Linked DNA regions of Homo sapiens. The protein of the gene in region 1 interacts with the protein of each later gene in a biochemical or structural test. Each region holds a gene or a part of one and is shown on either strand. Other genes may lie near its edges. The genes, in order: USP28, ESPL1 and RFFL.

The links.
Region 2: of the proteins of USP28 (region 1) and ESPL1, one has a biochemical effect on the other in vitro, tested with the Homo sapiens proteins (one large-scale study listed by BioGRID).
Region 3: of the proteins of USP28 (region 1) and RFFL, one has a biochemical effect on the other in vitro, tested with the Homo sapiens proteins (one large-scale study listed by BioGRID).

What each region holds. Positions count from the first base shown.
Region 1 is NC_000011.10:113,869,026-113,872,674, forward strand, and holds part of USP28 (ubiquitin carboxyl-terminal hydrolase 28), read right to left. Parts: intron 1-3,649. UniProt on the Homo sapiens protein: Deubiquitinase involved in DNA damage response checkpoint and MYC proto-oncogene stability. Involved in DNA damage induced apoptosis by specifically deubiquitinating proteins of the DNA damage pathway such as CLSPN.
Region 2 is NC_000012.12:53,266,665-53,270,413, forward strand, and holds the start of ESPL1 (separin), read left to right. Parts: upstream 1-1,634; 5' UTR 1,635-1,713; exon of another isoform or gene 1,714-1,965; intron 1,966-2,090; 5' UTR 2,091-2,102; coding exon 2,103-2,183; exon of another isoform or gene 2,184-2,264; intron 2,265-2,359; coding exon 2,360-3,421; intron 3,422-3,713; coding exon 3,714-3,749. UniProt on the Homo sapiens protein: Caspase-like protease, which plays a central role in the chromosome segregation by cleaving the SCC1/RAD21 subunit of the cohesin complex at the onset of anaphase. During most of the cell cycle, it is inactivated by different mechanisms.
Region 3 is NC_000017.11:35,018,676-35,022,324, reverse strand, and holds part of RFFL (E3 ubiquitin-protein ligase rififylin), read left to right. Parts: intron 1-543; coding exon 544-954; intron 955-3,649.

The DNA.
Region 1 (3,649 bases):
GGCTCATGCCTGTAATCCCAGCACTTTTGGAGGCTGAGGCAGGATGACTTGGTTCATAAGTTTGAGACCAGCCTGGGCAACACAGAGAGACCCCATTGCTAAAAAAACTTTTAAAATTAACCACAGGCTGGGTTCGGTGGCTCACGCCTATAATCCCAGCACTTTGGGAGGCCAAGGCAGACGGATCACCGGAGGTCAGGTGTTCAAGACCAGCCTGGCCAACATGGTGAAACCCCGTCTCTACTAAAAATACAAAAATTAGGCGTGGTGGCATGTGCCTGTAATCCCAGCTACTTGGGAGGCAGAGGCAGAAGAATCAATAGAACCCGGAAGGCGGGGGTTACAGTGAGCTGATCTCACGCCACTGTACTCCATCCTGGGCAACAGACTGCGGTCCGTCTCAAAAAATAAAATAAAACAAAAGTAGCCAGGTGTGGTGGTGCATACCTGTGGTCCCAGCTACTCAAGTGTCTGAGGATTGCTTGGGTCTGGGTGGTCAAGGCTGCAGTGAGCCTTGACGGTGTCACCACACTCCAGCTTGGGTGACAGAGTGAAACCCTATCTCAAAAAACAAACAAGACATCTCAGTTTCCTCATCAGTAATAGGGTAATAGTTCACACCTTGCTGGGTTTTTGTAAATAAAAATGTATGGAAAAGTGCTTAGGGTGGTACATAGCATATGGCAGACACGAGTAATACAAGTGTACATTCCCATGCCTAGTATAACAACCCTGGGAAAATAAGTATGAAGCAAACGTTTATAGCCAAGGAGGTTGATATTCAAGCAGACCTGTTCAAAAAGCACTGGGAAACAGAGTATAGAAGTCATTTGCAACTCAGGATTAGAAATGTAGATTTGGAGCCAGGTGTTCACGCCTGTAATCCCAGCACTTTGGGAGGCTGAGGTGGGCAGATCACCTGGGGTCAGGAGTTCAAGACCAACCTGACAAACATGGAGAAACCCTGTCTCTACTAAAAATACAAAATTAGCTGGGCATGGTGGTGCATGCCTGTAATCCCAGCCACTCGGGAGGCTGAGGCAGGAGAATCACTTGAACCCAGGAGGCGGAGGATGCAGTGAGCCAAGATCGTGCCAATGCACTCCACCCTGGGCAACAAGAGCGAAACTCCGTCTCAAAAAACAAAACAAGAAAAAAGTAACAGCAAAAAAGTGGTAATGAGGGATCATAAAAGCATAAAATAATAAAAGTATGAGGGGGCCAGGTGTGGTGGCTCATGCCTGTAATCCCAACACTTTGGGAGGCCAAGGCAGGAGGACTGCTTGAGCCCAGGAGTTCAAGACCAGCCTGGGCAACATAGCAAGACCTCGTCTCTATAAAAAATTAAAAAAACAGCCAAGTGCGGTGATGCACGCCTGTGGTCCCAGCTACTCAGGAGGCTGAGGTGGGAGGATCGCTTGAGCCTAGGAGGTCAAGGCCAAAGTGAGCTATAATCACATCGCTGCACCCCAGTCTGGGTGACAGAGGGAGAGATCCTGCCTTGGCAAAGTAGGCTGCTGAGCAGATTCTGATTACATAAAACCACTCACTGCCTTTCAACCTAACCTGCTGCTGCCTAGTCAGTCCCTCTGCAGGCCTCTGAACAATCAGCCATTTGCTGGAGCCCAGACTGGTCCACACGGCCATCTCATTATTTGGCTTTTGCAGAAGCTGTTATTGCCACCTTAAGCTCTGTAGCAGAATCTGGGAACCAACCTTCCTCAATCTCCTGTCAGCTAAGAGTTAGTCTTGCTCAAGTCTGTCTTTTCCAAGTTTTGTATATTGAGTCTGAATACATTGTCACTGGAAAAATGTTTTAGAAATGAAACAGGTGGGGTTAGAAACTTTGTTCCAAAAGCAAACAAGAGGAGGAAGGTGGAGACAACAGCTGGACTGGGCAATAGACACTTTTGTTGTTGTTATTTGGTTTCAAGATAGAGGACAAGTGCACGGTAAAATGGAAAATGCAAATTCAAAATGTAATATGCAAATGAATCACCCAAGAATCTTGTCAAAAGGCAGAAACTGATTGAATAGGTCTAGAGTGGGGGTACAGGCAGTGGTATGCTGATTGGCAGTGTATGCTTGTTTCCTTGGTATAAATATTCCCACCTTGGCACAGTTATCAACACGAGGTCATTGAACACAGAGCTGGAAAGAGATGTACAAAATCAGCTGGAGAGGCAGAGCAAGCTGGCTCTAGCACACTCAACTTTCTGCATGTCTAAATCCTAGGGGATGTGAATGCTGCTGGTCTGTGGACCATAATGTGAGTAGCAAGGGAGAAGACAGTGAAGGTGTCTGGGGGTTAGACTAGGACTAAGGAGAAGGGACATAATAGAAAGAGAAGAGAGACATCATCTAGATCAGAGTTTGTCAAGCTCAGCACTATTTTATACAATTTACACATAACTCTGTTTAGAGGGGCTTACTCCTGTACACTGCAGGATGTTTAGCAGCATTCCCGGCTTCTACGCACTACATTCCAGTAGCATCCTCCCTCCAGAGTCACAATCAAAGTCTCCAGACATTGCCAAATGCTTCCTAGATTACAAAATCTCTCCCTAGTAAAAACCATTAATCTAGGTTTATCTCTAAGAAATGAAAGGGGGAAAAAGGAAGGGAACCTTTTCCACTGAAATAAGAGAAAAGAGATGAGATGGCGTAGGGAGAGGGGGACAAAACAGAAGGCAGGGAGCTCTTTTTAGACATCAGCGAGCTCAGTCAAGTAGAAAAGAAGATTATCTATTTAGAAAGACTGTAGGGAGGACTGGAAGTTTAAAACATTAGGAGAGTTCTAGAAAAGGCATTATAAGAGTAGTGGAAAGTCTGTGATCCAGGGCAATGGGCCCATCAACTATGAGATAGGACCAGGGGCGCCTTGGGCTCTTGGGGTCAGAACTGCCTAGATACAATTCCAACTGTACCATATCCTCACTGGGTGACCTTGGACGAATTACTTAACAAGTATAAGCCTTCTCATAGAAACTTCATGGAGTTGTGTAAGTACTGAGAGAATGCTATGTTAAGTTCTGAGCACCGAGTCTGGCACATAGTGCATGCTCAATTAGCATTAGCTATTACTATTACCAGCATTATTTTCCTTGTTAAGTACTTGCTTCATTTTACTATTGATTTAATTTCTTTGATGAAACAGAACACATGGAGAGATCTCGCCTGGTAAGATGCTATTTGCCAGTAAGTCTTAAAAATACTGTTTGCAGACCGAGGCGGGCGGATCATGAGGTCAGGAGATCGAGACCATCCTGGCGAACACTGTGAAACCCCGTCTCTACTAAAAATACAGAAACATCAGCCGGGCGTGGTGGTGGGCACCTGTAGTCCCAGCTACTCAGGAGGCTGAGGCTGGAGAATGGCATGAACCCGGGGGGCGGAGCTTGCAGTGAGCAGAGATCGCGCCACTGCACTTCAGCCTGGGCAACAGAGCGAGACTCCGTCTCAAAAAAAAAAAAAAATACTGTTTGCATTTGGGGGCAGAGGGGCATGAGAGTTGTGGAACCAATCACTGACTTACTGATGTTTTAAAAATCAGTTAATGAGACAAAAGGAAACGAAAGGTCAATAAATCAAGAGAAAGCAAAAAGGGCATTAAATTTTCACTGAAACTGGCAGGTTTTTATAAGGCTTC
Region 2 (3,749 bases), on another chromosome or scaffold:
CACTGATAGCTAAGGTGTAAGCAAGAGGAATTGAGTACTGTGATGAATAATTTTCTTTTGGGTTTTTTTTGTTTGTTTGTTTGTTTTTTGGTTTTTTTTTTTTTGAGACAGAGTCGTCTCGCTCTGTAGCCCAGGCTGGAGTGCAGTGGCGCGATCTTGGCTCACTGCAAGCTCCGCTTCCCGGGTTCACGCCGTTCTCCTAGCGCAGCCTCCCGAGTAGCTGGGACTACAGGAGCCTGCAACCACGCCCGGCTAATTTTTTGTATTTTTAGTAGAGACGGGGTTTCACCATGTTGGCCAGGATTGTCTCGATCTCCTGACCTCGTGATCCGCCCGCCTCGGTCTCTCAAAGTGCTGGGATTACAGGCGTGAGCCACCGCGCCCGGCCTTTTTTTTGGTTTTCTTTTTTGAGACAGAGTCTTGCTCTGTCACCCAGACTGCAGTACAGTGGCGGGATCTCAGCTCACTGCAACCTCCGCTTCCCGGGTTCAAGCGATCCTCCCAAGTAGCTGGGACTACAGGCCCCCGATGCCACAGCAGCTAATTTTTGTATTTTTAGTAGAGATGGGGTTTCACCATGTTGGTCAGGCTGGTTCTCAAGTGATCCACCCACCTCGGCCTCCTAAAGTGCTGGGATTATAGGCGTGAGCCACCGCGCCCGGCCTTCTTTTCTTTCTTTTTACAAAAATAATCTTCCCTGCTAGATTCTCAACTCATAAAAGAGCTCTATGATGATGGAGAAGGATGAGTTATCCAGTAGAGTTCATCAGCGACAAGCTGATAACCACTTTTGAGCTGAATTCTTTGGTGGAGGAAGGAAAGAGACAGCTGAATCTGTGTTTGGGGAAGTGGTTAGTACTTAAAAACATAAGCCATTAAAGACTGTGAAATATCCCAGGGAATGAATTTCCATAGTTCTTCCTGCTACTCACAACTCCCACCCCACCCCACTACCCTCTCTCCCCCATCGAAGAGCACCAGATCTTGTCTTTCTCATACAACCAATAGAAGGAGTAAGGCTGGAAGGCAGAGAGAGAGCTGGAGGTCGCTACGGGTACTCATTGTAGTTCCCCTAGAAAACCATCTTTAAAATAATTTCGTAGGAAGTTGGGCGTGGCGGTGCACGCCCGTAGTCAGCACTTTGGGAGGCTGAGGTGGGAGGATCACTTAAGCCCGGGAGTTTGAAGCTGCAGTGAGCTGTGATCACGCCACTGCACTCCAGCCTGTGTGTCAGAGCAAGACCCTATCAAAAAAAAAATTCGTAGAAGTCTAAGCCCTTTTTTTCTAGTAACCCAAACCGCGTGAGTTCCTAAGTTCTTTTTGTTATTTCTCTTCTCTTGAAACTTAAACTCTTGCCTGAGCTCTGAAGATAAAGGAGGAAAAGGGGTGGCATTACCGATAGCGACTAAGCGACAGGTAGCTGAGAAACTGAGCTCTGACTGGAAAAAAGGGGGAAACCCGCACCCCCAAGAGGCCCTAACGCGCAGAGCAGCAAGACCCTCCGGGGCGCCGCGGGAGCGCGCAGCGCGGCGGGTAAACTACAACTCCCAGCGTGCCGCGCGCCCGGCGTTGCGCCGCGCCCGCTGATTGGCAGCCGCGGATATTTGAAAGGAGGGTCTGGCGCGGAAAACGAAGGTTACATTTTGGATCCTCGCGGAGTACTGGTCAGGCGGTTAAGTCCTGTACCTAGGAAAGAGGGCGAGCTCTGGGGCGGTAAGGCCGGAAGGGACTCGTGAGCGTGGGTACGTGCTGAAGTGAAGGGGATCCCCAGCGCTGACGCGAGGAGAGGCGTGGGTGGCTCCTGGAGGGAGTGTCGGGAGGCCTTGGGACTGCCCCGGGCCGCTGAAGGGCTGGGCCGAGGCCTCTGGGGTAGCGCGGCGAGTGGTGTGGTAGTGCGGTCGGGGATCTGCCCGGAGGAAGGAAGAGCGGAATCGTCCTTTTATAACGGGAGCACGGCGTCCTGGCGTGGGTTTTCTCCCCGATGAAATTTCTGATGTGATTCTTTGCCTCCTTCCACGACCTTCAGCCCTCTTCCCTTCCTCCAGTTAGCTTCATTAACAATCTTCTCTAATTGGTCTCCTTTTCCCTAGCTCTCCGGTGTCATGAGGAGCTTCAAAAGAGTCAACTTTGGGACTCTGCTAAGCAGCCAGAAGGAGGCTGAAGAGTTGCTGCCCGCCTTGAAGGTGGGGGTGCTGCCTGGCTCGGGATACACCTGGCTTTCCAAACTGAGCTGTTTTGTGTTTGCCTTTTGAAGAGATGGATAAGTAGGCGACCCTCTCTGAGTAACCCTATTTCTAGTTACTTTCTCTACCTCTTTCCTGCCTTTGCTAGCCCCATTCATATCTTTCTCTACTCCTAGGAGTTCCTGTCCAACCCTCCAGCTGGTTTTCCCAGCAGCCGATCTGATGCTGAGAGGAGACAAGCTTGTGATGCCATCCTGAGGGCTTGCAACCAGCAGCTGACTGCTAAGCTAGCTTGCCCTAGGCATCTGGGGAGCCTGCTGGAGCTGGCAGAGCTGGCCTGTGATGGCTACTTAGTGTCTACCCCACAGCGTCCTCCCCTCTACCTGGAACGAATTCTCTTTGTCTTACTGCGGAATGCTGCTGCACAAGGAAGCCCAGAGGCCACACTCCGCCTTGCTCAGCCCCTCCATGCCTGCTTGGTGCAGTGCTCTCGCGAGGCTGCTCCCCAGGACTATGAGGCCGTGGCTCGGGGCAGCTTTTCTCTGCTTTGGAAGGGGGCAGAAGCCCTGTTGGAACGGCGAGCTGCATTTGCAGCTCGGCTGAAGGCCTTGAGCTTCCTAGTACTCTTGGAGGATGAAAGTACCCCTTGTGAGGTTCCTCACTTTGCTTCTCCAACAGCCTGTCGAGCGGTAGCTGCCCATCAGCTATTTGATGCCAGTGGCCATGGTCTAAATGAAGCAGATGCTGATTTCCTAGATGACCTGCTCTCCAGGCACGTGATCAGAGCCTTGGTGGGTGAGAGAGGGAGCTCTTCTGGGCTTCTTTCTCCCCAGAGGGCCCTCTGCCTCTTGGAGCTCACCTTGGAACACTGCCGTCGCTTTTGCTGGAGCCGCCACCATGACAAAGCCATCAGCGCAGTGGAGAAGGCTCACAGTTACCTAAGGAACACCAATCTAGCCCCTAGCCTTCAGCTATGTCAGCTGGGGGTTAAGCTGCTGCAGGTTGGGGAGGAAGGACCTCAGGCAGTGGCCAAGCTTCTGATCAAGGCATCAGCTGTCCTGAGCAAGAGTATGGAGGCACCATCACCCCCACTTCGGGCATTGTATGAGAGCTGCCAGTTCTTCCTTTCAGGCCTGGAACGAGGCACCAAGAGGCGCTATAGACTTGATGCCATTCTGAGCCTCTTTGCTTTTCTTGGAGGGTACTGCTCTCTTCTGCAGCAGCTGCGGGATGATGGTGTGAGTTAAGGACCTGGAGGTAGGGTGGGGACGTGGTCTGTGGACTCACTACCAGCCTAGGGTATTTGGCAAGATCTGGAGGTCCTGGCTCCCTCCTTGTTAAGCTGCTCTCTGGACAGTGCCTAGCGAGCCAGCAAACAGCCTAGTCTATCCTGAGAGGGCAGTGGCCCTTCTGGATGTCCTTCCTCGTGCTCCCTGGGCTCTGTCAGCTCTCCAGGACTCCGGGTCAGTCTTCAGCTTGGAGCCCTCTTTATCTCTACTCCTCATACCAACCTTCCGCTTCCTTCCTCAGGTGTATGGGGGCTCCTCCAAGCAACAGCAGTCTTTT
Region 3 (3,649 bases), on another chromosome or scaffold:
ATATTTCCTAGCTATAATAAAACAGCTTACACTTGTTGAGGACTCATTTTGTGTTAGATATGCTAAATGGGTTCTCTCTTAATCTTCACAACAACCCCATGAGGTAGATACTGTTATCACCCCCATTTTACAGATGTGGAAACTGAGCACCAGAGAGGCTAAATTACACACCCAAGGTGATACTGCAAGAAATAAGGGAGGGAGGCTTAATAAAAATGCAGAGCTTTTTGATTCTTATGCTGGTAGTCTTAATTAATACCTCAGGTGCTTCAGGAGTAAATAAAGTAAGCCTCAAATTAAATAATAAATGTGAAGTGTCCTGTACATGGATATACACAATACATAGTGGAGGTCTTCCACCCGAGTGGCTTTTAATCTAAAATCTGAAAGTGGCTTGCACCCTTAGATATATGAGAGAGCTTAGTAAAAGTAAGAGTGACTGGAGGAGATCCTGCTGGGCTTGGCAGCTCTGAAGCTCCCATCGCACTCTCTGTCTTGTTCTCTCAATCTGACATGGTTTCCTGTGTCTTTTGCTCTAAGCAGCAGACCTGCTTGGACTGTAAGAAAAATTTTTGCATGACCTGTTCGAGCCAAGTAGGGAATGGGCCCCGCCTCTGCCTTCTCTGCCAACGGTTTCGAGCTACAGCCTTTCAGCGAGAGGAGCTCATGAAGATGAAGGTGAAGGACTTGAGGGACTATCTCAGCCTCCATGACATCTCTACCGAAATGTGCCGGGAGAAAGAAGAGCTGGTGCTCTTGGTCCTTGGCCAGCAGCCTGTAATCTCCCAGGAGGACAGGACTCGTGCCTCCACCTTGTCCCCAGACTTTCCTGAGCAGCAGGCCTTCCTGACCCAGCCTCACTCCAGCATGGTTCCACCTACCTCACCCAACCTCCCCTCTTCATCTGCACAAGCCACCTCTGTTCCCCCAGCCCAGGTTCAGGAGAATCAGCAGGTAAGGGCCCATTTGTAGTCTCTGCCAGTCTGTGCCAGTTTGAGGGCTCATTTTCATTTTCCTCTCCTGCCTTTGTTGTGAGAATGGGGTATAAGGCTAAGTGTCTTGATTATGTGAAGCCTTTCTGACTACTGGTGCACCAAGTGTTTTCTGGGTATCAGACTCATGTTTTGGCTTTCTTCAGAGGTGATATGCACAGTACCAATTTTTTTGTTTGTTTTTTGTTTTTAATACACACATATCCTAGTTAGACATTTTTTAAAGTTCATCATTCCAGAAATATTTTGAGAAAAGTAACCATTAAGCCATCAAATTTAGTTCTGTTCCAATTTGTCTTTCAACTTAACTCCTTTGTTGCAGTCTTCATTGGCTGGATTGGAAACTTAGTTCCTTAGTAACCATCACAAGGAATATAGGAAAGCAAAGGGCTATATGGAGGCAAGGGAGGGTGGGGAAACAGACAAAGACACTGCTTCTCTTACCAGTCACTGGCTGGAAGCAGGAGTAGTTGGCACGCTGTACTTGCATGCTGCTTCTTCATTATCCTGGGGGGCTTGGAAGTGGTAAGCTAAGAGCAGCACATCAACTGAATCATGACCCAGGTCTGGGGAGTATAGAAATGAGTAATAAACTGTCTCTGTCCTCAAAAAGCCCCCAGAAGAGGGAAGGTAGACAGGTAGACCAACTAACTACTGGATTAGAGTGAGGCCAGTGGACATAATTGTTGTATAAGAAGTGATGATGTTGCATAAGTGCCTTAAGTGACTCTGTTATTTATAGCAGCGGCCCCTAACCTTTTTGGCACCAAGGACTCGTTTTGTGGAAGACAATTTTTCCACAGACTGGGGTGCGTTGGTTTTGGGATGAAACTATTCTACCCAGATCATCAGGCATTAGTTAGATTTTCATAAGGAGCATGCATCCTAGATCCCTCGCATGCGCAGTTCACAACAGAGTTCACATTCCTATGAGAATCTAATGCCACCGCTGATCTGACAGGAGGCAAAGCTCAGGCAGTAATGCTTACTTGCCAGCCACTCACCTCCTGCTGTGCATCCGGGTTCCCAACAAGCCATGGACCAGTACCAGTCTGTGGCCCAGGGGTTGGGGACCCTTGATCTATAGGGCTTGGGCAATATGGGGGAATTAGGAACTACAAGATCCAATTTCCACATCCACTTTTGTCACTGACTTCTTGATCCCCTTGGGCAAATGTTGAGCCTACAACAATGAAATGAGGTTAGTAATCACAGACCACTTTTGATCTTGCCAGGATGTTGAGAGACCTGAATGCGTGATACCATGTCTAAAAGAGCTCTGAGTTACTTAGAGCTGGTATAGTGCTAGTGCTGTTGGTTCCCACACATGATGTGGATGGCTGCTGCCACTTGTTTATGATCACCTCCTTTGCCAGGACTGGGCCCCCTGATTCAGCTCTTGACAACCACTGAGGCATAAAGGCCAATGTGATAGCATAATTTAACTGCAGTAAAATCATTTAACTCCCTTTTTGGCCTGAACATGTTTTTCTCCGCAGCTGGACTTTAATTCTTTCCTAAGCTCTGACTCTTGGTCTGCTAGACAGATTTAAACTCCTGCTATATATTCTTCCCTTTGCTTGTGTTTTTTTTTTTTCCACTCTATGTATAAGGAGCCAGGAGAAGAACTTGAGGAATTCTTTTTCTGTAAAGAACCTTGGCTGGGCGTGGTGGTTCATGCCTGGTAATCCCAGCACTTTGGGAGGCTGAGGCAGGCGGATCATTTGAGCCCAGGCATTTGAGACTAGCCTGGCAACATGGCAAAAACCTGTCTCTACAAAAAATACAAAAATTAGCTGGGCGTGGTGGTGGGTGCCTGTAGCTACTCAAGAGGCTGAGGTGGGAGGATCATTTAAGCCTGGGAGGTCGAGGCTGCAGTGAACCATGATCATGCCACCACACTCCAGCCTGGGCAACAGAGTGAGATCCTGTCTCAGAAAACAAAAACAAAAAACCAAGCAAACTTTTCAGGTAGATTTTTCAATGAAAGATGATAAGCTTCCTGTCATTAACCAGAAATTTCCAGATTGCACCTAAAGGTCACCCTACATACAAGATCTAAGTGGGTACTTTTCCTCTGAGATTTTCAAGAGACCTTAGTGTCTGCTTACATCCCCTGTTCTGGTGAGAGCTGCACTTTGCAAGCAGGAAAAACAGGCATGGAAGAATTAAGTAACTTACGCAGTACTGTCTGACAAGTTCATAAGTGAGCTGCACCTAGAATGTAAATTTCCTTATAATACTTGCTCAACCAGAGTTCTCTCTTTCACCTTTAGTGCCCTAGCAATCAATAGTTGCTAGGCAAGGAAGTATATACAATAAGCACAACTGTGGACAGGTACTAGTTTTGGATTTTTATTTAGCCAGTGGGCAAACTGGAAAGACAAGAGCATGCTTTGCAGCATGAGGTCGTTTCTCTTTCTAGGAAACAGGACATCTGAAAGATAGCTACTTAGGAACAGGTTAGGCTCTGAAGGATTCCAGGGTAATTCCAAGGTAACACTACCTGAGAGACCAGTGAGGATCTACAGTAAGCTAAGAGAAAACGTTGTTGATGAAGACATTGATTTGGATCCATCCCCATACATGTGTACTATGCATTTGATCTTGCCTTGATTTGGCATTTTGTTACTTCTGCTTTTCATTTCCATTGCAGT